Homo sapiens: one gene and its partners. The protein of the gene in region 4 interacts with the protein of the main gene of each other region in a pairwise test. Each region holds a gene or a part of one and is shown on either strand. Other genes may lie near its edges.

Evidence for each region.
Region 1: the proteins of ISCU (region 4) and FAM9B interact in binary tests that used the Homo sapiens proteins (3 or more experiments, as listed by UniProt).
Region 2: the proteins of ISCU (region 4) and PICK1 interact in binary tests that used the Homo sapiens proteins (3 or more experiments, as listed by UniProt).
Region 3: the proteins of ISCU (region 4) and BANP interact in binary tests that used the Homo sapiens proteins (3 or more experiments, as listed by UniProt).

Annotation. Positions count from the first base shown.
Region 1 is NC_000023.11:9,024,124-9,031,157, forward strand, and holds the end of FAM9B (protein FAM9B), read right to left. Parts: intron 6,474-7,034; coding exon of another isoform or gene 6,445-6,473; exon of another isoform or gene 6,238-6,444; coding exon 6,138-6,237; intron 5,296-6,137; coding exon 5,184-5,295; intron 3,844-5,183; coding exon 3,745-3,843; intron 1,461-3,744; coding exon 1,392-1,460; 3' UTR 1,361-1,391; intron 1,255-1,360; 3' UTR 109-1,254; downstream 1-108. UniProt on the Homo sapiens protein: May play a role in meiosis.
Region 2 is NC_000022.11:38,060,404-38,067,437, reverse strand, and holds part of PICK1 (PRKCA-binding protein), read right to left. Parts: intron 2,437-7,034; coding exon 2,308-2,436; intron 1-2,307. UniProt on the Homo sapiens protein: Probable adapter protein that bind to and organize the subcellular localization of a variety of membrane proteins containing some PDZ recognition sequence.
Region 3 is NC_000016.10:87,954,426-87,961,459, reverse strand, and holds part of BANP (protein BANP), read right to left. Parts: intron 1,590-7,034; exon of another isoform or gene 1,467-1,589; intron 1-1,466. UniProt on the Homo sapiens protein: Controls V(D)J recombination during T-cell development by repressing T-cell receptor (TCR) beta enhancer function. Binds to scaffold/matrix attachment region beta (S/MARbeta), an ATC-rich DNA sequence located upstream of the TCR beta enhancer.
Region 4 is NC_000012.12:108,565,574-108,569,880, reverse strand, and holds the end of ISCU (iron-sulfur cluster assembly enzyme ISCU isoform 2 precursor), read right to left. Parts: intron 2,692-4,307; coding exon 2,613-2,691; intron 2,224-2,612; coding exon of another isoform or gene 2,177-2,223; exon of another isoform or gene 1,962-2,176; coding exon of another isoform or gene 1,909-1,961; exon of another isoform or gene 1,051-1,908; coding exon 965-1,050; 3' UTR 513-964; downstream 1-512.

The DNA of each region.
Region 1 (7,034 bases), on a different chromosome or scaffold from region 4:
ACATGTACATCTTTTTAACATGTTACATGCAAAAAATCTTTTTACATGTTTGTTATATGTTGTTACATGTGAAAACTGCACATTAAAAAAAGGAAAGGCAGGCGAATTCATCATTCAAGTTTTTAGATGTCCATATAAACTTCCACATAATCCACGAATATTAAACTGGATAAACAAAGCACTCTACAAAATTTACCTTGCCACAGATGTGAAATAATTGTAAGCATACATAAATGTTAACAAAATGCTTTCATTCAATTCTAAGGGGAGGTATCATTGAATGATGGACCAAAACAAACTAAATAGCATTTTGATGTCTGTGGAAATGACATACCCACAAACCAGTGGCTCAGCACTGATATTAATATATCTTGCTCAGTTGCCTTAATCATTTACAGCAGTATAATTTTTTTTAAGAACACAGACAGTAAGGTGCTTTTAATAATTTTGATATGGCCATAGAGTATATCTATTTTTTGAAGTCCTACTTTCATTGGAATTGCCTCTTTATCCTAATGAGTAAATACAAAAGAACGCACAGATAAGATAGCTTTTGTCTTCTTCTTCTTGTTTTCTGAGAAAGAGTCTTGCTCTGTCGCCCAGGCTGGAGTGCAGTGGCACAATCTTGGCTTACTGCAACCTCCAACTCCCGGGTTCAAGAGATCCTCCTGCCTCAGCTTCCTGAGTAGCTGGAACTACACGTGCGTGCCACCACGCCCGGGTAATTTTGGTATTTTTAGCAGAGATGGGGTTTCACCATGTTGGCCAGGCTGGTCTCAAACTCCTGACCTCAAGTGATCCACTCCCCTCGGCCTCCCAAAGTGCTGGGATTACAGGCGTGAGCCACCACACCCAGCAGATATTGTCTTCTTTTATTAGAGAAAAATGTACTTTTCTATGCCTGTGCTTTCTACATTTTTGGAACTGATACAAATCCACAGAGGCCAAATCGAAATCTAAATTATCTTTAATGTTAAAATTTAATTGACCGTGTACATAACTATGCAATCCCTGCTTTCTCACAGAAGTGTCTAGGATTCATTCAACAGATCATAGAAACGAGGTCTGGCATTTAACAGACGAGTGACAGAGGAGCTATACCGATTTATACAACAATTATCAAAACACTGTCATGTAGTTTACTGTAGCTCAAGTTGTGCTTGTATCATATAACATAGGTTCAAGTTCTTTCTTCAGTCATCAGAATAACAGAGGTTGAAGAGACAACTGGGTAAGTGCCAACTTTTCCAAAAGCTGTTTCAAAAAAAAATTTAAGTAACTGTAATACACATTTCTGCAAATAAAATATTCCAGTGCTACATCAATCCTGAGTTTTTAATATTAAATATGCACTACTTACAGTTCTGACATGATTTTATTTAAAAACATGTCTAGTTATCAAGTTCACTGTCTTCATCGGAAAAAACTCTGTCACAAAGGTCTTCAAAGTCCTCAAGAGCCTAAAAGAAAAAGTCTAGTTCACTGACAAACCACCACTTTATATCTCGCATTTTAAACAGGGTTAATTAAATGTCAAAAGGAAACAGCTTTTAATATTCAAAGGATGCCAGTTATTCATTTCAAATAGAAAAAACTATAATCAATACATGGAGCTCCAAATACCCAATTAAATTTTTTAATGCCAGATTTCAGTGACATATTATTTTAGCAGGTCTAACAGTCATGTACTTTGCTTAAATAAAATGGGTTGAAGAACATCTTAAGGTCAAGATGGAGCGAAGACAGAAAAAGACGGGCAGGCTTATATCATGAAATATTATATTTTTTTTCAGCAGGTAGCGACCCATGTATTATCAGCAATAGCCTACATAACATGGTTTCCATTGAAGGGATAAAATGGTTGGTGATATGACCTCATCAAGTTAGAGAAAACGTAACTGTGTTTGAAATATATACTCTTTACTCAACAAATAGTTCAACAGTTCCTACTCCCTAAAATGTTGTAGGTTAATGCTGAGGAAGATGTAAAAAATGAATACACAATCTTCCGTATTTCTATGACATGAGCAAATGCACAAATAAAAAACAAGTAATACAAAACTTGTGTAACTGCTATGGAAGGGCAACTCACTCGGGCATGTAGCCAAAAATGGAGACTGATGTTGATTTAGTTGGCGAAAGGTTTCAATCAGTCAAAAAAAGATTTTAAAAGTATTGTGAGGGAAGAGCATGAGCAAAGCATGGGAGTAACGGTGAGTTCCTTCAGGGAAGGCGGTCAACCTGGAGAAGTGGGAGGAAAGACAGAAGGCGGCAAAACAAGCCTAAGAGGGGGTCATGTAAAGGGGAGAGTCTCTGAATATCTAAGAACTGAGACGGGGCATCACTGACAGGCTGGGAAGACGGAAGGGCTGGGAAGCATTTTAGGAAGGGAAGGGTTTTAGAAAGATAATATTGCCAATCAATGAAGGATGGCTCAGAAGAGAAGAGAGAACTCAGAAAAGAGTTTAATAGTACAGGTAAGGAAGAATGAGGTCTTGGACTAGGGTAGCCGCAGTGGGAATTTAAAGAAAGAAATTAAAGGACCATTGCAGAGGTAAAACTTGCCTCGTGATAACTACATGGGAAGGATAATGAACTCAGAAGAGTCCAAGATGATAGCAAAGTTCCTAACCTAAGTGGTAACATGAAACATTAATACTGACAGGAAAACTACTAGTCTCATGTTCATACCAATTAATAAATGGTATCTGGAGAACATTATAGCAACATGTTCTCTACTTGTAACTTCTATTTAAATAACTGTTTGTGTATAGATAATCCTCAAGTTGCTTGAAAATTTTATTTTCAAACTCTTTTCCCAGTTTATTTAACACATCTCAGTTAGTGTAGAGAAGTGACATATGAACATGTCTTTTCCAAGGTTATTAAAAAGAATACCAGATCTCCCCAAAAAAGATTCCACTGCTTCCTAAATTATCTACATCTACATGAAGAAGAGGTCATTGTCTGATGATAATTTGCTAATGTGCTGTACAACAGCAGATAATTCGCAATTCACAACGTGTTAATAATCTGCTGGCTTTCCCATTCTGTTATACATCTGAACCATCTCTTATGATTACAAATTGTCATGTAGAACCATTACTAATAATTTTGTAAGTGAATATGCCATAAAACACTCCTGTGTTTCAGCAAGAAATAAAAAAGACACACAGTAGTTACGCTTGCCTACTTCCTATTTAACTAAAACTCTTGAAACAACACAAGTAAAAAAGCCATCCAGAAAGGATTTATGGACCTCTTGCCTTCCACCATAGATTTGTCATTGATGTCCTGAAAACTGAAAATAAAATCTTCATTAAAACCCATTTATGCCTAGTGTTCCATTATTGGAACGCTAAGCTTGTGGGAATCATATATATCCTACTGCTCAAGGTCATGGCCAAGGTCTGATTTTTCACACACAAAAAAAATTTGCAACCTCTGGCATAAATAGGTTAATGTGTTAATAAAGTGTCAATTTTATACATAAGATGTGTATTTCTAGGTAAAATTTCCAATTTACCTTTTCCTGTTCTAAATAACTCCCACAAACTATTCATGAATCCTAAAAATACATTTACCAATTATATTATATCTGGAACAATACATTCAAAGTGAAAATGCTAAGTAATTTGAAATGTATAATCAAATGTCTTTCCATACATTCAGAAACAAGCAGACTGTCTTCTATTATGCACGTGTTGTATTTTATAATGTATTATGTTACCAAATAGAACAGACCTTTACGAATTGGTCACGTAGCAGCTTCATCTCTTTCAGCCTCTCTCTCCTAACACTTCTATATTGTTGCCACTTCTTCTGTTGTTCTTGAAATATTCTCTAGAATCCCAAAACAAAATAGTGATAAAAATTGGGTAAATTTTAATACTTACAAAACATAATTCTGCATTAGCTTTAAAGGAATACTGTTTAAATCAATACCTCTGAACACTTTCTTTTAGACAACATTTAGGACCAATTTTAAACAATTGTGTTCACCAATAACATGCTAAAATGATGTATTAACCTTTTTTATCAGTCATTAAGTAAAGAATTTTCTTACTTTTACACATTCAACACATATGTCCTAATTCTTGATTTCCAATGAAGAGTATTTGATGAACCTTCCTATAATTTGTTGACCACAGATAGGTAAGATCTATACAGAAATTAACTAAGAAAAATTCTTTCTAAGATTTTAAGCATGTATTAAATCTCGGTCATTTCAATATGCACATAGATGAACCACCCAATAATGATTGCCTTTCTGCACCCTGACCTAATCTCCAACAACAGTGTTCTCCTCTCCTCTACGTGGCACTCACTCACACAGTCATCCCCTAGATTTTGTCATTCCCAATGACTTCAACACCTACGTAATATTAATAATAGCAATGATAAAGAGCAACCATGGGTCAGATCACATCCTGAAAAACTTAAATAAACCTGTTACACAGAAACCCTTTGATCCTCCAAACAACTCTGACGTAGGTACTCTTACCATGTCTCCTTTCGTAGATAAGATAATTTGCCCATGGTTTCCGAGCTAGCAATGGTCAAGCTGAGATAAATAATTTTTCCATGGTTTCCGAGCTAGCAATGGTCAAGCTAGAATCCCAAGCAGTGTGGATGCATAGTCCCAGCCCTTGACCACTGCACTCAGCTGTTTCTCCAACTTCCCAACATACAGCCACTACCTCCCTGCCATCGTAGGTCACTCACTTCAGTACTACAGCTCAGGAGTCTGTTGGGACCTGACACCCACTGAATGGAGCACTTTTTACTGCCCATTGCCCACTCCCGTGTGCTCAGATAACTCAGTCCCAGCTGAAATTCCACAGCCAGTCATCATATCCCCATCTCTGCATCTATTCCCTGCCCAACTCTCCCTCTATCAATCTGCTCGGCTACACCCCGACCCAGGAAATTCCAACCCTACAGCTGTGCTTGCACAAATATGCCAACTGGGCTTACTTTAACTTCTTCATCGTTATGATGCTGACTTCAGTTGGACCCCTAATGCTGCGTGGCAATTATATTCCCCTAGTCCATTAGTCCACTAACGGGCCCCCCTCTCTGGGCTCATGCGCTCTTCCTTCTTTGCTGGATTTCTGCATGAACTATTACTACCTGAGACACTGACATAACAGGTTATACATAAAGCTAAGCATGATACCAACAATTAGTTCTTCCTCTTCTCCCTCTTCTTCTTCTTCCTCTTTCTGCTCGTCTGTGATGTATTCTTCAAGGACATTTAGCAACTTCAGAGAATGTATATAATCACGTTTCTGCCTGTAACACATAATAAGTAACACGGTCATACGTCATAGAGAGATGAAAAATTAATCCTATTCAAACCCAAACTGACTTGACATAATTTATACTATAAAGTAGCAAGGGAGTAATAGCAGCTGAAATCTTCTTTTTGGAAAAAAGTGAAATGAGTTACTCTCATTTTGAAAGGATTCTTTTCTTCCTGACTACTAGAGCAGCTATCTTACATTCTTTACCTGCTGAAGACAAAGGAGGGTTTACTGCACTATAACTTTCCCAGAAACATTTTCTCTAAGAGCAGTTTACTTTCCATTTCCTCTTACTGAATAACATATGGGTTCTCATAAGTAGGTTCAAGAATATCATAGCCATTCATCCCATAAGATTTCCCAAAAGAAAAACTTCACTTAACTATTTCTCCACTTTGGCACACCAATGATTTTGTAAAAGAAATAGTGAAAACAATTTAACTAAAATAGATAACTTATTTACAACATAAGGTTATCCCTTTCTACATAATTGAGTATCGTTAAGGATCTACAGACTAAACATTGAGAACATTTATCTTATATGCAGCTACCATATTTCTAGAAATGGATAAACATTAATTTTACAAGAAGGCTATTTTTATCTGGAAGGCAAAAAGAGGTCATCTTCATTGGCTTCTAGGTAATATCTCTTAATTCTGTTAAACTGAGGTTATAAAACTAAAGAAACTTACCTACTTAGAGAACAATCAAGTAAAATATGTTGTTCACTAGAGACGCCAATATGTACAGGATAGTTTTTGAAATTATTTGCACCAACTAATACAAAGAAATGATATAAATATCATTATGCAAAAAAGCCAACAGTCATACCTTTTAAGTTGCTTTTTTCTCAAAGCATGTTTACTTTTGTTCTTTGTTTTGCTGCAAGTTTTATCCATTTTCATCCTTTTTCTTTTTGCAGTAAGATCCTCTTTAATGTCAGTTAGATAGTAAATGAAAATGGATTAAAAGTTAATGTTGAAAAGTAGTTTCTTTGCATATACTGACATCAATATGGGACTTTATGGTTCAGCAATTTCAGAAGGATATTTAAAATATAAAATGCAAAGATCATTTCAAAAAGCAAGATTTACTCACTTATTTTCTGTAAAACCTTTCAGGTATTAACATTCGCATTTCAATTCCAGTTGGTATAACTGAAAATCACTTAATTGACAGATGATGAAAAAAAGCAAATAATTAAAAGTCTCTATTTTTTAAATGTGCAGAAAGAGTTATAAGCACAGACTTTAATTTCTACATTTATAAAATGTCCTACAATTCAAAGGAGATGCTTCCATGAAATACTGCACAATTCATTACGTAAAGCACACAAAAAAGTATCTTATATAATAGAACCCTCAAAAGGGTAGAAATAACTTAATGCACAATAAGAAAAGCATTTTTAAGCAATCTAGTGATTGATGCTATTAACTGTATTTTAATAAAAGAAGCAATGGCCATGAGTATAAAAATTTAGGTTTAGGTAAAGAAATACATTCAAAAACACTTTTGAAATGTTTTCTTGGAGCTTTTTATGACATTTGTACCCATAGTGCTGTGTTTCAGAAAACTGTAATACTGCAAGGAATGCTTTCCTAAACATGATTTCACATCAGAGCTCTACCATCAATTGCTAAGAATAATTTTCAGCAATCATAAAAGATTTGTACCACAATGCAAATATTTTTTACATACAGTCTCCATCTATAATGCCCAATGTATTAG
Region 2 (7,034 bases), on a different chromosome or scaffold from region 4:
GCTCAGGAGGCTGAGGCAAAGAATCACTTGAACCTGGGAGGCGGAGGTTGCAGTGAGCTGAGATCACACCATTGCACTCCAGCCTGGATGACAGAATGAGATTCTGTCTCAAAAAAAAAAAAAAAAAAAAGAATCCTAAGCCCCAGTAAGGGCCAGGCTGAGCGCTGTGACATGGCCCCACCTTGTGACCCTGTCTGATCCCAGGCCCCTCCCTTCCTACTCTACATCCAAGCCCTGGGGAATCAGTGGGGACAGGGCCGGCACCGGGCCCACAGCCTGGCGGTCTCTGATGTCTTGTGCTTCGGCCAGGTCAGGCTCTCCTTCTTCCCTCCCCACGCAAACCACACTCCAAGCCTTTGCCGTGTCATTTCCCTACACTGATTATTCCCTCCTCCACCCCAAAACACCCCATCCCCAGGAATCCCTCTACTCATCGAACAGCACATCTGAGCACTTGCTCTGTGCCTGGTGCTGGGGCACCAAGGGGAGGGGCAGGGGCAGCCCCAGCCCCGCAAGGCTGATGCGAATCAGGGAATTACACAAACCACTTTCTAACGACTGCTCAGGAGACAAAGGCTTCTCCCAAGAGGACTTGCCTGAGCACGGGAGGGCGCTGTGTTCACTCTCATCCTTGCAAACCAAAAGCCCTTGAACTTGGGACCACATTCATCCAAATATAAAACAGGATTTTAAAATCAAGTCCCAAAGGGAAACCAAAATGAGCAGATGCAATCAGAGTCAGAGGTGGGGTGTGAACTGCTCCCGCAGAATGAAACACAGGCGTGCTCAGGGGCCACCCCACAGGGAGCAGCTGTAGGCCAACGGCAAGCGGGCTGCAGTGGGAGTCGGGCCCGGGCTCCAGTTCAGCTGTGTGACCACAAGCAGGTCACTCCCCGCCTGTGGACACCTGTAAGATGGGAGAGTAATCCCTGCCCAGCACCCAAACAGGGGAGCTGGGCCAATGCTGCATCCCTGTCATGGCTGTGTGCAAATACAAAGAGCTCTTGTCCTCATGGGCAACCTGAGGTGCTGGTATGACCAAGCCTGAGAGGACAGGGAGGGACCTGGCGAGTGGAGATGGGGAGGAGATGCGGAGGGGGGAAGGGCTGCCAAATGGGGCACACACAACCCAACTCGGCCAGAACGAGACCCCCTGCACCTGTTCCCATGATCAGCTCCTCTGCCTAACAGGTCATACCTGAGGCAGTGATACCCAGACCACGTGGAGTGGCAGCTGTGGGGTCTCAATGAACCTTGCTGCTTCCTTTTTTTACAACAGAGCTCTGAGCCCCAGCCCCAGGCCCTGATTTGTCCTATGGCTAAAGGGGCTGGAATAGGAGAATGTGCAGGATGGGACTCTTCCTACAGCAAGGAAGGAGAGAAGCACGGACTACTCAGGAGCAGGACAGGAGGATAAAGGGGAGAGAGGATGGAGCAGCGGCTGGCCTGGGTTAAGGCAGGAAGGCGGACTATCAGGAGTGCCAGAACCCGGAGGATGGAAGTGGGGCTGAGGGAGGTAGCTGCCACCCTTGGCCAAGCTGAACTCACAGTGGGGACCCTTGCCCCCGAGACTTTCAAATCACCCCATGGCTGTGCACTGCCTGCACATCAGTTCTTTCACAGTATTGGTTTCCTGAGACTAGCTAGCAGCCACTTCGCTAGGAAATGGCAAAGGGGCTGCATGCTCGCTTCAGGAGAGGCCGGGATGCCGCCTGCCATTCCAGTCCTGGAGCGGCAGGGGTGGGGGAAAGCGGGGCAGGCAGTGTGTGACTCTGGTCTGTAGAGCAGAAGATCAGCTGGCCTGGGAGGGGGGTCTCTGGGTGTCTATGAGCCCAGGAGGCTGTGTGGGACCGAAAGTTCCTACAGGATGGGGAAAGGGCACTCTTCTTTCCCTCCTAGCCCTCACAGGCCCAGCGTGACCCGGCTGACATTATTGGGTGTCTACTGACCCAGGGAGGATCACCTTGGACTTTTAGCTTCAGCTCTGGCACTGACTGGGGACACATGGGCTTGCCTGAGGGGTGGTTCCAAGTCTGTCAGCTCCCTGGGAGCTCATGGGGACCTTGTGGTCTTGCTGCCCACTCTCTTGCCAAGGTTCAGCACAAGTCCTGGAGCACGATTAGTATTTATTGAATGAATGAGGGATGGATGAGGGAGGCTGGAGTGTGACCCTGACCCTGCACATGACAAGGAAGGGGGCGGTGAGGGCTGATACCCCCTTCCAGGCCTGCTGGGACCTCTGGCAGCCTGGAGGTCTCAGAAACATGTGTTGCTGCCTCTGGACACCTGCTCTGCAGCAGCCCTTACCTTCACCTCCTGAATCATCTTCGCCACCTCCACCTTAGTTTTCCCTTTGATTGACCTGCCATTGACACCGGTGATCTCATCGCCAGCTGCCACTGTGCCGTCCAAGGCTGCTGGGGTGTTGTCAAATACCTGTGGGTGCATAAGGAGAGTGGTGGGGGAAGAAAGGGAGGGCTAAGATGGAACCTGGGAAGACACCTGACCACTGCCTGGCTCTGTCTTCCACTCTACCCTCTGCTCTCGTTTTTTGAGAAAGCGTCTCACCACCCGGGCTGGAGTGCAGTGGCGTGATCACAGCTCACTGTGGCACTGAACTCCTGGGCTCCAGCAATTCTCCTGCCTCAAATACATAGTCAAATGATTTCTTTTTTTTGAGTCGGCGTTTCGCTCTTGTTGCCCAGGCTGGAGTGCAATAGCGCCATCTCGCTCACCGCAACCTCCGCCTCCCGGGTTCAAGCAATTCTCCTGCCTCAGCCTCCCGAGTAGCTGGGGTTACAGGCATGCGCTACCACGCCCGGCTAATTTCGTATCTTTAGTAGAGACAGGGTTTCTCCATGTTGGTCAGGCTGGTCTCAAACTCCCGACCTCAGGTGATCCACCTGCTTTGGCCTCCCAAAGTGCTGGGATTACAGGTGTGAGCCACCGTGCCCGGCGGCATCAAATGATTTTTGACAAGGGTGTCAAGAACATTCAATGGGGAAGGACAGTCATTTCAACAATGGTATGTGAAAAATGAAGTTGACACTACTTAACACCACATACAAAAATTAACTCAAGGCCAGGCGCAGTGGCTCACACCTGTAATTCCAACACTCTGGGAGGCCAAGGCAGGCAGATCACCTGAGGTCAGGAATTCGAGAGTAACCTGGCCAACATGGCGAAACCCCATCTCTACTAAAAATACAAAAATTAGCTGGGCATGGTGGCAGGCGCCTGCAGTCCCAGCTACTCAGAAGGCTGAGGCAGGAGAATCGCTTGAACCTGGGAAGTGGAGGTTGTAGTAAGCCGAGATCATGTCACTGCACTCCAGCCTGAGCAACAGAACGAGACTCTGTCTCGAAGATAATAATAATAATAATAATTAACTCAAAATTGTTCAAAGACCTAAATGTAAAAGTTAAAACTATAAAACTCAGAAAAATGCCTAGTCCAAAACCTTCACGACATTGGAGTTTACAGTAATTTCTTGGATGTGACACCTAAGATCCAAGTAACAAAAAATAAACAAATTGAACTTCATAAAAATTTTAAAACTGGTGCATCAAAATACACCATCCAGTCTGGGCAATGTGGCAAAACCTTGTCTCTACAAAAAACACGAAAATTAGCTGGGCATGGTGGTGTACGCCTGTAGTCCCAGCTACTTGGGAGGCTGAGGTGGGAGGATCGCTTGAGCCTGGGAAACAGAGGCTGCAGTGAGCTGAGATCCCGTCACTGTACTCCAGCTTGGGCAACAGAGTGAGACACTGTCTCGAAAAAAAAAAAAAAAAAGAACAGAGAAGAGAAGAAAAGAAAGGCAACCCACAGAATGGGAGAAAATATTTGCAAATCACATTTTTGATAAGGGATTAATATCCAGAATATATGCAGAATTCCTAAAACTCTTTTTTCTTTTTTTCCTCTTAGCCGATTGTGCTTTGTAGAGAATTCTTAAAACTCAACAACAAAAACCAAACAACCTAATTCAAAAATAGACCAAGGGCTGGGCACGGTGGTGCGCACCTGTAATCCCAGCATTTTGGGAAACCGAGGTGGGAAGATCGCCTGGGCAATATGGCAAAACTCTGTCTCTACAAAAAAAATACAAAAATGAGCCAGGCATGGTGGCGCGTGCCTGTAGTCCCAGCTACTCGGGGGTCTGAGGTGGGAGGATCGCTTGAGCCCAGGAGGTTGAGGCTGCAGTGAGCCATGATCGCACCCCTGCACTCCAGCCTGGGCGACAGAGCAAGATCCTGTCTCAAAAAAAAAAAAAGTTAAGATGGTAAATTTTACCACAATAAAAAAATAGAAAAAAGCAGAACAGAGAATACAGAAAGCAGGATGTCATCATCGAGATACATGACAAGAAGGACATGGTGTTCCCGATGACGCCCTCTGAGGATCTGGCACAATAAACAAAAGCCTGTGCCTGCAGCTACCATCACGACTCCTCCCAACACCAGGGACAAAAACAAAGTCCTCAAAGTTCTCACAGATCAGAAATAAAACACATCACAAATAAAGGATCACCAATAAGAATGGCAATAGCCATGTGACAGCAAAGGACAATGTGACAAGGCCATCACACTTCCACACAGGAATTACTGTCAACCTTGACGTTCATTCTTGAATCGAATGAGCCAAAATGTCAACTGAAAGGAATATGGGAACCACAATGACCAAAAAAGACAGACCCGAGGTCTCAAAAAATTGACATCCCACGTGCCCTTTCTCAGAAAGCTACAGGAGGATATTCTCCACGGGAGATCAGGGAGTAAACCAGGAAAGGGACCCCCAAGATGGGGGAATCCAAAGAGAAGGGGCAGGGGCAGGGGGAGGGCACAAGGGGGAGAGACTACAGGGCGGAAAACAGACTGAAGAAAATGGGGCCGGGCATGGTGGCTCACGCCTGTAATCCCAGCACTTTGGGAGGTCGAGGCAGGTGGATCACTTGAAGTCAGGAGTTCGAGACCAGCCTGACCAACATGGTGAAACCCCGTCTCTACTAAAAATACAAGAATTAGCCAGGCGTGGTGGCACGTGCCTGTAATCCCAGCTACTTCGGAGGCTGAGGCAGGGGAATCACTTGAACCCGGGGGCTGGAGGTTGCAGTGAGCCAAGATCACGCCATTGCACTCCAGCCTGGCAACAGAGCAAGACTTAATTTAAAAAAAAAAAAAAAAAGATGGGAAATTGTGGAAAACATACTGAGAAAACAAGGAGAGTGCAAATGAAAAAAACAAAACAGGAAATTACCCCCACCCTCTCAAAACACAAGAACAGGCTGAATTAAGAAAAGAAACATAGATTCCTCAGAAAGTTAAACATAGAGTTGTTTTGACTAGAATGAGGGCTCCGCAAGAGTAGGATCTTTGCTTTCTTATTCTTTTATCCCTAGTGCCTACAACAGAGCCTAGGAGGCATCTGGAAAAGATTTCCCGAACAAAATCTCCGTTGTACTAATATTAATTTAGCCAAAAATAGAAAAATAACTATGTTGGAAAGGTGGGATGAGAGGAAACAGACTGGTCATGGGAAGAACTAAATTCTCATCTACCAGACGAGGCAAAGTCAATAGATATTTACAGGTGATAGATCAAGAAACAACAGGATAGGCTGAGCACGGTGGCTCACGCCTGTAATCCCAGCACTTTGGGAGGCTGAGGCGGGTGGATCACTTGAACCCAAGAGTTTGAGACAAGCCTGGGCAACATGGCAAAACACCGTCTCTACAAAAAATACACAAAAATTAGCCAGGTTTGGTGGCACGTGCCTGTAATCCCAGCTACTTGGAGGCTCAAGTGGGAGAATCATCTGAGTCTGGGGAAATCAAGGCTGCAGTGACCCATGCTTGCACCACTGCACTCCAGCCTGGGCGACAGAGTGAGACTATTGAGAAAAATGGAAGCCCATGCATGAAGAGACAGAGAAAGCCGGGTGAGGTGCCCAGGGGAAGGGCAGTGGATTGCTATTATTTGATACAGGGCTTTTAATGCTCTTGACTTGGTAGAGGCAAGTCATATGGCACTTTGATAAAAACAAAATTGAATTTAAAAAAATCAATTCTATGATGATGATGATTATTATTATTTTTGAGACGGAGTCTCACTCAACTGCCCAGGCTGGAGTGCAATGGCACGATCTCGGCTTACTGCAACCACCATCTCCCGGGTTCAAGCGATTCTCCTGTCTCAGCCTCCCAAGTAGCTGGGATTACAGGAACCCGCCATCATGCCTGGCTAATTTTTGTATTTTAGTAGAGACAGGGTTTCACCATGTTGGCCAAGCTTGTCTGGAAGTTTTCACCTCAGGTGATCTGCCCACCTCAGCCTCCCAAAGTGCTGGGATTACAGGTGTGAGCCACCGCACCCGGCCAGTTCTATTATTTTATTGGCTGGTGGTTCATGCCTGTAATCCTAGCACTTTGGGAGGCTGAGGTGGGTGGATCGCTTGAGGCCAGGAGTTCGAGACCAGGCCGGCCAACATAGCTAAAACCTCTCTCTCCTACAAATACGAAAATTAGCTGGGCATGATGGCGCACACCTGTAATACCAGCTACTCGGGAGGCTGAGGCATGAGAATCGTTTGAATCCAGGAGGCAGAGGTTGCAGTGAGCTGAGATCACGCCACTGCACTCCAGCCTGGGCAACACAGTGAGACTCTGTCTCAAAAAAAAAAAAAAATCAATTATACTATTTTATGATGTCTGTTCATTCTAAGCAAACTTGCACCTGAGGTAGGTAGAGGGAGGTGGCGAGAGGCTGAGCAGACACACGGCCAGGAGGCCAGGCCTGGGGGAGGTCTTGCTAATGCCTCCTGGGTCACAGGAGGCCGAATGGCTCATGAAGGAGGCAGCACTGTGAGCAGAAGCAAGACCAGGTCGATCCTGGGAATCTGTCTTCGAGGCCTACAAGCGACTCCTGAGCAAGATCCTCACAGAGGCCAGTTTCCCATCTGCCACCAGTGAGAGGGTTAGAACAGGTATTCCCAAGGCTACAGCAAGGTCACTGACTTGGATGAGCCACACAGTG
Region 3 (7,034 bases), on a different chromosome or scaffold from region 4:
GGGAAGTGGCTCACGCCCGTAATCCCAGCACTTTGGGAGGCCCGGGGGGGTGCAGATTCTGTGAGTCCAGGAGTTCGAGACCAACCCGGGCAACACAGCAAAACCCTGTCTCTACAAAAAGTACGAAAAAATAAAATAAAATGCAGCCTTACAAGGAGATGCAGTTAGACAAGGGAAAAGTATCTTAATAGGCTCTTCAGATAATTATGGAGATTCCTCTTTGACACCACACCAACACGCAACAAGTGTGTTTTATTTTTCCTTAAAGGCTGTTTGCAATATGGAATGTGAACTGTATCCATGAGCTTCTGCACTTTATGGCTTTAAGATCCATTGGCTTGACTTGTACTCTAAATGGATCTTTTACCCAGGCGTGATCCCGCATCGACCATCTGGAAAATGTTGCTTCACCGAGTTAGGCAGCTCTTGCAAATGTTGTTCAGTCTATAATATCAAAAGCATACGGTTCATCAGCATTAGCACTGGCATCTGATTTATTGGGAGCTCTCGGGCTCACGGTGGCAAAGACAAACTTTCCAAAACTCCAACTTCACTTGACAGCTCAAACTTTATCACTGGCAACAAACACTGTTAGCTGACTTCTTTGAGGTGAGAGGCTAACTTCACTCATTTAGTAAGAGATGTCAGTAATCTGTAAATTATTTTTTTATAGTGTTCCATGAAAAGAGCAGCTAGTTCAACTACAACTCAAATAATCCCTCAACAACCACCCAACTTCAAAATACAATGAAAGTGCTTTCCGTGGACTTGCCATTTTATCAGAGCAGAATCACTGATTTTGTGAAACAGCTCATCTGCTGAGTTGGCCGGGGCACACCCAACACTGTGCCATGAACTGCTGTCATGCGTCTTGTTAGCAACGGGAGAAACTGGGTACCAGGCACAAGGGCACTCCCTATGCTATCTCTGCCACATATGTATACATCTCAAAATGTTCCAAAATAGAAGGTTTGCAAATAAGTATGTCTTTAGGATAAAAATAACAAAACCCTGCCAATACACGATGTGCCCCACCTGCTACCACCAAATCCTTGCCTGCCAACCTCTTTAAGCACGTTCCAAACCCTCACCCAAGCCCATCCTCAAGTGTGGCTCTTCCCAAGAGCTGCTGAATCCCAAGCAAGCCATCTGGGTCCAGATCCACCATCAGACTGAAATTCATCTCCCAGGTGTCAGACAAGAGCCCCACAAGCAAGCTCCTGACTGCGTGGGCACCTGCCACGGCCAGTGTTTCGCATCTCCCCTCCCTGTGGCCATCCTCACGGTCCGCGGGGCCTCTGCTCTGCTCCAGAAGCCCCCAGAAGGTGGGCAGGAGGTTTGGCTGGTGTGCATGAGGGCCAGCCCCCAGTGAAGGTGCCCCTTGGGACTGTCTCCCAGGGTGGGGGTAGGAGGTGCCGGGGACACCTGTCACCCCCAGGTCTCCATCTCCTGCCTTGACCTCTCACCGGCACTTTCTTCAGTCCAGGGTTTAAACCCCGTCTAGGCCATGGTCACTCGGATCAGCCATCCCAGCACTTCCACAGCTGAACCCTCCTCACTTCCCTGTTATCTTTCTCCCCAAGAATACTACCAGGAGTCCCGGCCACCTCCCTGCGGCCCCACCCTCATCGCCCTGCTCTCGCCCTTCCGCATCCCGAGGCTCCTCCCTCTCTGACTCCCCCTCAGCCCACCCCCTCACCCGGGACCTGGGCTCTCACCGAGTACCCTGGCACCCATCGCTCCGAAGGGTGGCATCGCCCCTCTGCCACACACACTCCGATCTGGCCGTCTCTTTGTCCTCCAATGCTCCATGTGTCCCTCCCAAAACCACACGGGCTGCAGCAGGAAGACCATGGCCGCTAAGCCCTTCTGTGGCTGACGCCAGCGCTGTTCCTCCAGGGGGCCTCCTCCCCGGAGAGCCTGCTAGTACCAAGCCTGGTCAGCCGCCTCCCTCGCAAGCAGCCTCACACCTCAGCTCCTCTGTGCAGGGCCCAGGCCTCTCCCCATCCAGCCACTGCCTCTCTACACAACCTCGTCTTATTCCTTCCCAGGGCAAACACACTCTAGGTCAGGGGGTGGCACGTGAGGGCCCACAACCCAGCCCAGCTCTCCACCTGCTTCTATGCAGCCTGTGAGCCAGGAATGGGTTTTACATTTTAAAACAGAAAAATAACAAAAGAACAATATTTCATGATGAGAAAATTACATAAAACTCAAATGTCAGCGTCCACAAACAAGGTGCCTGCTTCTCAGCCCAACAGCAGAGTCGAGCGGCTTCACAGTGGCACGAGACATCCCACGCCCCACAAGGCCAGAAACACTTACACTCTGACCCTCACAGAAAAGCGTGCCATCCCGTCCTGGGCCTCTGGGATCCATCAGTGAACTCCACAAAGATCTCCACCCCTGTGGGCATGCACGGTGTCACCACCCAGTCCCCAGTGTACGTGCCAACATCATGCTGAGGTTGCTCCCCTCACTGCCAAGGCGCCGCAAGGTCCTCCCTCCCCCATGAGAATTCTCTATGTCTGCAAAGGATGGATCCCGAAGCCTCCACGCATTCTGGGCCTTCCCCTCTGCAAACACTGCTGGGCTGTGAGTTTGTGCCGCTGAGCTCACTGGTGGATTTTCTACTGTGAGGTTATTAGTCTGATCTCCATAGAGATTAAAATCAACTTGGATGAGAAGCCACATGTTCAATCACAGTCACCCCTAAGCAAGCGGCTTAACGGGAATAGTTTTTGCTTGTTTTTTCTTGAGACAGGGTCTCACTCTGCCGCCCAGGCTGGAGTGCAGTGGTGCAATCATGGCTCACTGCAGCCCTGCAGCCTCCAATTCCCGGGCTCGAGTGATCCTCCAGTTTCCGCTTCCCAAAGCGCTGGGAGCTTTGGGCCACCATGCCTGGCCCAGTGGATGGCCTTTTAAAAAGTACTTTATACACTACATCCAGAGTTACCCAAATTCAGTCAAATGCTGTGCATAACCACCCGCTAGTAGACACACATCACAGAAGAGTGGTTTCCACGCTCTCGACTGGGGCCTACGATGGTAAGTTCATACACTCATCACTGCAAGTTTCCTGAGTCGATACCTACCCGTTAGCCACTCCGAACCATGCTCCTTTTATCCAAGGCATGCTCCATTTTATCCAGTATTCTTAACACTGGCCATGGCCCACTCAATTGATGTGGGTTCAGACCCAAAGTTTGAAAAATAATGCACTCAAAATAAGACCAATGTCAGTTTCTAGGGACTCAGAGTTCAAGAACATGAGGGAACGTGGCACAAACGACCAAGGACCACCACCTAACATGACCTACACCACAAAGAGGAGAGCCAGAAATTGTAAGACAACAGGCCAATTATTGCAAACTGTGTTTGCCCACTGACAGTCACAACTGTTGGCTGGGAAACAGGGCACCCAGCCTTCTAAAAACACTTAGGGTGTGAACTTTCTCAATCTCAGGGACGCATTTCGGCAGAAAACGCAGACTGGCAGCGGCAGCACTCTGCTCAGGGACCCACCGCCAGCTCCCACCGACACAAGAGCTGAGCTCACTTGAGGACACGTAGCGGCAGGGGTTGTCCGCATCCTGGCCACCAGCGCCCACAGAGCTTGCAGCATGCCATGATGACAGCAGGGACCGTGGCCCAATTCCCCCCGCGTCATCTGGTGAAAGGTGAAGGCGTTCTGCCATATTTACGGGAAGCGCATTCACACCGGCAAGGAAATGCCAAGCGCGCACCCAGTTCTCCCTCCCGGCTCCATCCAAACGCGTTTCTACTTTCAGAAAGATTAAGCTTTGCTTCCAGATATTTGATGACTTTTCATCTCAAGGGAAAAGGAAAATCACTACAGGCCACAACGGCCTTCTCTCAGACACAGAAGGTAACTGGTCACTAGCGAAAGGTTTGTCAGCGCAGGGCCCTGCGGCAGGCCTCCGTGAGCTTGCCTCAAAACCGCCCCAGGTCTCCTGACAGGACTCCACACCAGCCCACCCGGTCCACACAGGATCCGGTCTCAACCACGACAGAATGTGGACACAGACGAGCAGAGGGGAGGTGACTGCAGCCAATACACACCCCCGATCCATTCTGCCCAGCCTTCCTCAGGTGTTTCACTGCAGCCTCCTCTCAGCCTTTCACCTCCTCAGCCGCCTCTGCTCCATGTGTCCTTCCACAGCTCCCACGCTGTAAGCTGGCGACCTGTGGGTTCCGAATGGAGCACCGCGCCATCCTCCACCACCACTGACCCCTTCCCCAGAGAGACACCTCCCATGGGAGCAGCGAGTCGTGGAGTCTGCTCCACCGTGAACGCTGACGATCCAGAATGTTTAATCAAATTGGACGGTTCTTGACGAAGTGTAGACGCGAAGGATTGCAGAGTGGTTCTTTCCAACAGGAATCAAGTTCATGTGACTTCACAGTATCTCGGCACACCATCTGCTGGCAGCTTAGGAGTTAACACTTCCTGCACATTTTAACCAAAGACACTCACAGGATTCTGCCACGGAGGCCCCGGGGTGCTCCTCTCTCTGAGACTTACGGCACCCCTGAGAGGGGGCTTCTGGGACAGCACTTCATCCTCTGCACGGGGGTCAGGATGGAGGGTGGCGGAGAGTGTTTCTCTACTTCCTGAGGATGGAGACATCGTCTCTTCCAAAGGGGGGGCCAGAGTGGAGTCTTGTACAACAGACAAAGGGAGTCCCAGGCGAGCCCACCGGGACGTGCAGAGGCGGAAACCTGAGCTTGTCTACGACTACAACCAAAGCAGGCTGAGCTTGCCTATGATTACAACCAAAGCAGGCGGCTCTGCAGGCTGGGAAGGCCACGTACCAATCACTCGCCCCATTCTTCTCCTGCAGGGGCTGAAGGGCCCCAGGTGCAGCTGAGAACAAAACAAGTGTAGCTTTTTCAGAGCAAATTGCAAGTGTGTGATTCCACCCAATACTGTTTTCAACTTCCTGAAACTCCTCCCCACGGCCCCCAGGCCCCCAAAGTTCCGGATGGTTCAGAGCACTTCTGCTGACCAAGTCAGATGATGTCATGCTTTCACCACCGTCACCCGTGTGAAGAGAAAATACAGATGTTTATCTACCTCAGGCACAGGGAGGACCTTCTAAAGCTTTCATCTCATTCTCATTCAAACCCTCAAATTGACTTTCCCCAAGAAGTCTTTCCTTCAAAATGAGGAAATGTTTAGTTTCTCTAGATTGCAGTGGCTAAACTGGTGCTGTGAGTTACAGTCATTTTCAAGTCAGCCTTGCGACTCCATGTCATGTCAATCACTTAATCGTGTAACTGGAGTTTTTGGGATTTGTACAGTATCACTGCAGACGAGGAACCCAAAGGCTAACAATCCTGACGGGGGAGCTGCAAGACCACTGAGGCCCACTGCCCAGCACCTGTGCCTGGAGCCCCCAAACCCCTACTCCCTCACCTCCCTCAAGGTTGTGGGAAGGCCTTCCGTGTGGACCAGGGTGCACACACATCACCTGGCCACCTGCCTGCAGGAAATTCTGAGCCTCCCTGTCTTTCAAGACCTGGACACTTGAGACGCACTGGCCAGGACTGTGGTGAGCATCCCTCAGTTTGGGTGCAGCATTTTCTCATGATGAGACTGCATTTCTGGCAACACTGCCAGAGAAGTGATGTGTCTCACTGGGTCCTTGGTGTCAACGTCTTATGACTGATGGTGTTACCCCGATCACTTGCTTCACACAGTATCTGCTGGGTTTTTCCACCGAGAGGCTACAGTTTTATTTTTCCCTTTGTGACGTGTATCTTGGGGGAGATACTTTGTGACTATGTAAATATCACAGACAGAAGGACATTAAGGAGACAGGGCGGCCACACGCACCAGTGTGGGGTCCCGGAGGGGATCCCGAAACAGCAAGAGGACACTGGTGCAAAACCGAAGTTCGAATAAGGTCTGTCATTTACGCAATAATGCTGTGAACTTTCTGGCGTTTATATGGATGCCTGGTTACATAAGACGTCAACATCAGGGGAAGCAGATGAAGACAACAGGGAAGCTCAGTGAAATATTTTTTGCATCTTTTCTGTAAAGTCAAAAACTATCTGAAAATTAAAAGCTGACCAAGCTGCAGTCTGATTCTGCACGAGAACCTGGGTAGGGCCTGAAAGTGTGCGTTTCTCACAAATACCCAAGTGATGCTGATGGACACAGCTGGCCCCTGGACGCTCGGCTGGCAAGGCTCTGGCAGACAGAGCCCACCGCACTACACACAACCTCCCAGTGACAGTCAGCCACCATGCAGAAAGATCATGCTCCCAGTACGCTCACCACTGCTTCACTGCAGGCCCTCCTGGACCCCAGCAGGGCAGACGGCCCGCTTGGCACACTGACCCAGCGAGGAGCCAAAGTCAGGGTCTTTGCTACCACACGGGTCTGCCGGGCCTTGCCCAGGTACGCTGGCAGCCCTCCAAGGCCACAGGGCCAGAGCCACCAGCCCACGCTGCAATTCAGAGGCGGCTGTGGAACGGCGGCTTGGCACCTCACCCCGTTGACTGTGGGCAATTACCAAGGCCACAAGGAAGCAGGAAGGTGGAGTGAATAGAACAGGCTTGCAAATTCCTGCTCAAGGGGAGTGACTGGCCGTACGGGTGACCTCCTCTCACTCCATTAACATCATCTTTAATAGGGTGTTATCAACCCACAAGAAAGAACACACTCCTGACAGATGCAGAGGACCCGATCAGGGCAGAGGGAAAGCACCGGGGGCACAGGCGTGGGGCTCCAAGCCTCGCAGAGCCCTGCGGGCAGGCCAAACCCGCACCTGCCAAGTCGGTCCCGCACAGGAGAGCTAACTCCCCCACGGCCAGCAAAGGGGCCTTCCTAAAGAAGCGGAACAGCCCAGAGAAAATATCTGCAAGTTGGTGCTCCAGGTCCCACGGTGACAGGCTCCCAATCACCCGAGGGGAAACTGGACTCTTTCAAAAGCACCCCACAGACCCGGGGCTCTCCGCCAGCTTCCTCCTGCCTCAGACAACAGTAAACATCAGTATGGAGG
Region 4 (4,307 bases):
ATAGTTCAGAATGAACCACTTAAGATACTACATCTATGCAGAACACAGCATTCAGAAGTTTCTTCCCTAAAGTTTGGCTCATCTACGACCACAAAAAACCCAAGAGGTTCTTAAAAGTCAGGGGCTCTGGAATTACCTGCCCAGACAGAAGTCAGAAACTTGGGCCTAGAAATCCGCATTTTAAACTCATTCCCGAGGTGCTCTTCATGTATCTGGTCTACCGCTTTAGGGTGCCAAGCTAATGCTTTTTAGATTTGAGCAACCAGTGAAATTACAGAAAGAATCTTCAAGACTTACTTTGAGCTTTCAACTACTATCACACAAAGAACAATGACAAGCGATAATCATCTCCTTTCATCCTTGTTCCAAAAAATATTACGTATATTTGTCTTTGTTTGCTTGGAGAGCTGTGTATGTCACTGCGGTCCAACCTCTGGGAACCCCAAGGGGCTTTGGGCACCACTTCAGGGTGAATGATGGGCCCAAGAGACAAGGCTTACTAGAGAACACCATCATCTTCCATTATTTTATTATTTTTTATACATATATATATATGCGCAATCTGTTTTATGTACAACAATTGGTTCTATCAAATATTCAGACCAAGGCATTCTACTGGTAATTTCCCCCCAAATCAATTCAGGTAAAATTAGATACTTATGCACTTCACGGGCTATCAAAACTTGCAACTTCATTATCAATTTCAGTTCTGAGGTCATACACACAATTCAAAATATACATTAACTAGGTTAAGGCGATAAAAGTGGGCTGAAAGAAACCACAGGATTCAGAACAATGAAACTGTGTATTTTGCTTGCATGAGAGTCATAACGTGAACAGCAAGTATTGTGCGTATCTCATAGCTCTTCAGTGGAGAGGAAGCGGCTTCTGAACATCTAAGGTGACTGCACAGCAGGTGGGAAACAGCTGGTGTGGCCTGCTGGAGGCTTCGCCGAGGGAGGGCTCATTTCTTCTCTGCCTCTCCTTTTTTGGGTTCTTGTTTCAATTTGTAATCAGCCAGGGCGGCCTTGATTGCATCTTCAGCCAGCACTGGAAGTAACGGAAGGAAAGAAGCCTAAGTTTCTAGATGTGAAAGAAATGGACTTGGGAATAGAATCTTTAAGAGCTGGGAGGAAGTGGTGCTGGTGGGGACTAATGGAGTAACCAAGCCAGAAAGCTGGGGTGAGGAGTTGCTGGGCACGTCAGCAGCTGCTTCCTGAGCTGAGTTACTCCTGCGGGTGATCCTGGAGACAGACTAGGGTTAAAAATCTGTGATCCCAGGCTAGTTCCTTAGCCTCTTTGACCCTACTTTCTCTTCTATAGAACTGGGATAATCATGCTTTTCTTGCCAGGATAGTGTGGGGACTTACAGAAGATGTCTGACACATAGTAGGGACACAGGAAATGTTACTTCTTGCCTGCTCCCATCAAAGTCTAGCTTTGGACAAAATCTTGTCATGATAAAAAAGTTGACATGCCCTTTGGAAAAAAGATCATGTCAATCTGTTGATGGGATGGCATTTGCCACATCACCCTCTAGTGATCGAGAGTTTGACCACTTTTATTTAGGAGTCAATATTCAAAGTGAGGCTATGGGGAAAATAAAAACTGAGAGAGCTGGAATGACAGCAGAAAGCAAGCAAATAACAGAGAACATCAGCTAAAGGTTTCAGTACCTAAAAAGGCCTAATAAAAGGGCTGGGGATTTCCTGAAACCATGTGAAAATGTTTACAAGTGATGACCTTTCTTTATGGGTACTTAAAATTCCAGATCAAGTGGAAAGAACTTAGGTCTGACCAGGCTTCCTGAAGAATGAGTTAGTGTGTCTGCCCCGGCACCTGGCTCTTCTGCTGTGAGTATTACCTTGGCAAGAGGCCTGACTCTCTGCTGATTTTTAACTAATTTGGTTAGTAAACCTCCATCGATGCATTAAGGCTAATGTTTCTCATTCCTTCTTTCCCTGAGAAGGTTAAGAAATGATGGAAAAAGCATTAGATTTAATACAGAGACCAAACTGGAAAGCCAAGTACAAGTCTTAAGGCATCTGGGCTTTTTTTTAGGATAGCAGGGAGGGGGACATTGTACAACTGGGCTTAGTTGTTCCATATATACAGATGCAGACCCCGACAGGAATACCATCCAGACAGGAAGTGAAGAAATACACAGGAAACAGGATTATGGCGAAAGCTGAGTTTTCTCCTCTGCTGGAAACAGCACAGATTCTGAAATCAAAGATTGGAGCTTAAATTCTGGCTCTTCCACTTATTAGCCATGTGATGTGGGCGTCTCAACCCAAGCCTTAGCTTCCTCATCCATAAGAGGGAAGTAATGACATCTACTGTGCACTCAAGGATATTTGTGAGGTTTAGAAATTACGCCCATGAAGTGCTCAGTATGATGGCTGGTGCATACCTCCTTCTGGCATGATTCTCTTAGGGATGAATGTGAGACCATGGGGGCTCTAACCCTCTGCAGGTTATAAGGACAGACTCATGAGCTCTAATTCTGAGGGTTACAAACGTGGGCTCCATGATCTAAAAGGACTGTTGCAAACCAAGTTGAAATTACTGCCAAATGTCCCAGCTGACTGGTATGGAGAGCAGAGACTTACTGGAGCAGTGCAGTTTCACGGGAGGAAGGCAGAGCTCCTTGGCGATATCTGTGTTTTTGATAGTCAAGGCTTCCTCCACCTGAGAGGCATAATGGAAAGATGGGCAGTTTTAGCAACACTTTATCTTGTGAGGGCCAGCCAATAAAAAAGGGAGGCCAAAGAGGCTCTCAGGGTTGGTGGGGATGATTTCTGTTTAATAACTCAAACGGCTAAGGGTCTTCTCAGGACTCCCACTTTATCAAAGCTGCAGCTGGGATTCTCAAGCATGAAGTATACACAGCTGCACTGCCTGGCTTGGGTAAGCAAAGACAGCCCAGACACTTCTCTAAGTCAGGAGTGGAACCTGTGAGAAGTCTCTTAGGGATCTGCTTGTGGCCTGTAACAGGAATCTCTTCCTTAAAAGGTAGTGATTTCCTATGCTGGTTTTGTGAATATCAGCTTCTCCGATGTCCTCATACCAAATGTTAGCCTAAATCCTTTTGACTAGAAGTGCCGAATGGCATCAGAGAGGTTGGGAAGATTTCAGGTAAGTAGCACAGTGGCAGTGGCACAGCCGAGTCAGGCCGAATGCTCTCTTTGGTGTCCCCTTTGCCTATAGGAGCATCTCCTCCAGATCAACTAAAGAGGATGCCTGGGGTCTGGTTGACAGCCCTGGGGGATAATGTGAGGCAGGCAGATCCTTGCCCATGTAGAACAGTGCCCCACTGCCTTACAGAAAACCAGATTTCCCAACAGCCAGACTCTTTGACTATGTCTATCATTCAGTTTCCCAATTCTGCTAACCCTTCTTGGTTGATTCAGGTTCTGCTCCTGAAACTCAGATGGGAGATCTCAAGGTTAAAGAAATGTCCTCTCTCCCATTTTCTGATCACAATTCACAGTCCCCTAAGGGCCAGGTTCTGGGAGCAAAAGTGCCTTGTCTCATTTCTCCCTTCACCTGAGGACAGTTCCTGACAAATCACTTCAGAGCTACCTCCTGCCACAGCAGGTTAGGTCTGAGCTTCCTGGCCCACAGGGGCTTGCCAGCCAGAAGGCCGTGAGCCACAGGAAGCAGGTGGCACGTGGCCTGGCAAACTGCTCTGCTGTGGAGCTGGCCAGCTTCCAAGCATGCTCCTCTGTGACTCAGCTCCCTGAACCTGGTCCCTTGGGGCAGCAAAGATGAGTGCCTTGCTGGTTGGCTTTTCTGAGAGGTTTTGACAGCAACTGGATTTTAGAAAGTCCAGCTCTTCACTGTGTTTGGGACCTTTGACCTCTGCAGCTACCAGGGAAAGACACTTGGGAGACAAAGGGATGAAAAAGAAGTTCTAGCTCTTTATTATCTCTGCCTTTAGAGGGCTTGCGATCAGCCACCTGGATCACTGTTCTGATTTCGTTGTTCACTTTGCCCCCACCCTTGCTGTCTTTTTGATTATTTAATCCCTCTTTTAACACAGGCTAGTTTATTTCACCAATTCTTGAAAGCCACCTAGAACCCTTCCTGAAACATGAGAGGAAATAAACAAGAAAATAACTACCTTATAACAACTCTCTGACTTGAGAAATTATAAGAGCACTGGTAACCTTAGAGAAAGCCAAAGATTTCTTTTAAATTCTATTTTGTTAGAGGGACAGGTGAGGATCTTTTTTATATGTAATTAACACCCAAACAAACAAAAAAATAAAAATGATCAACAAGAAAAAAACCCAAACAACACC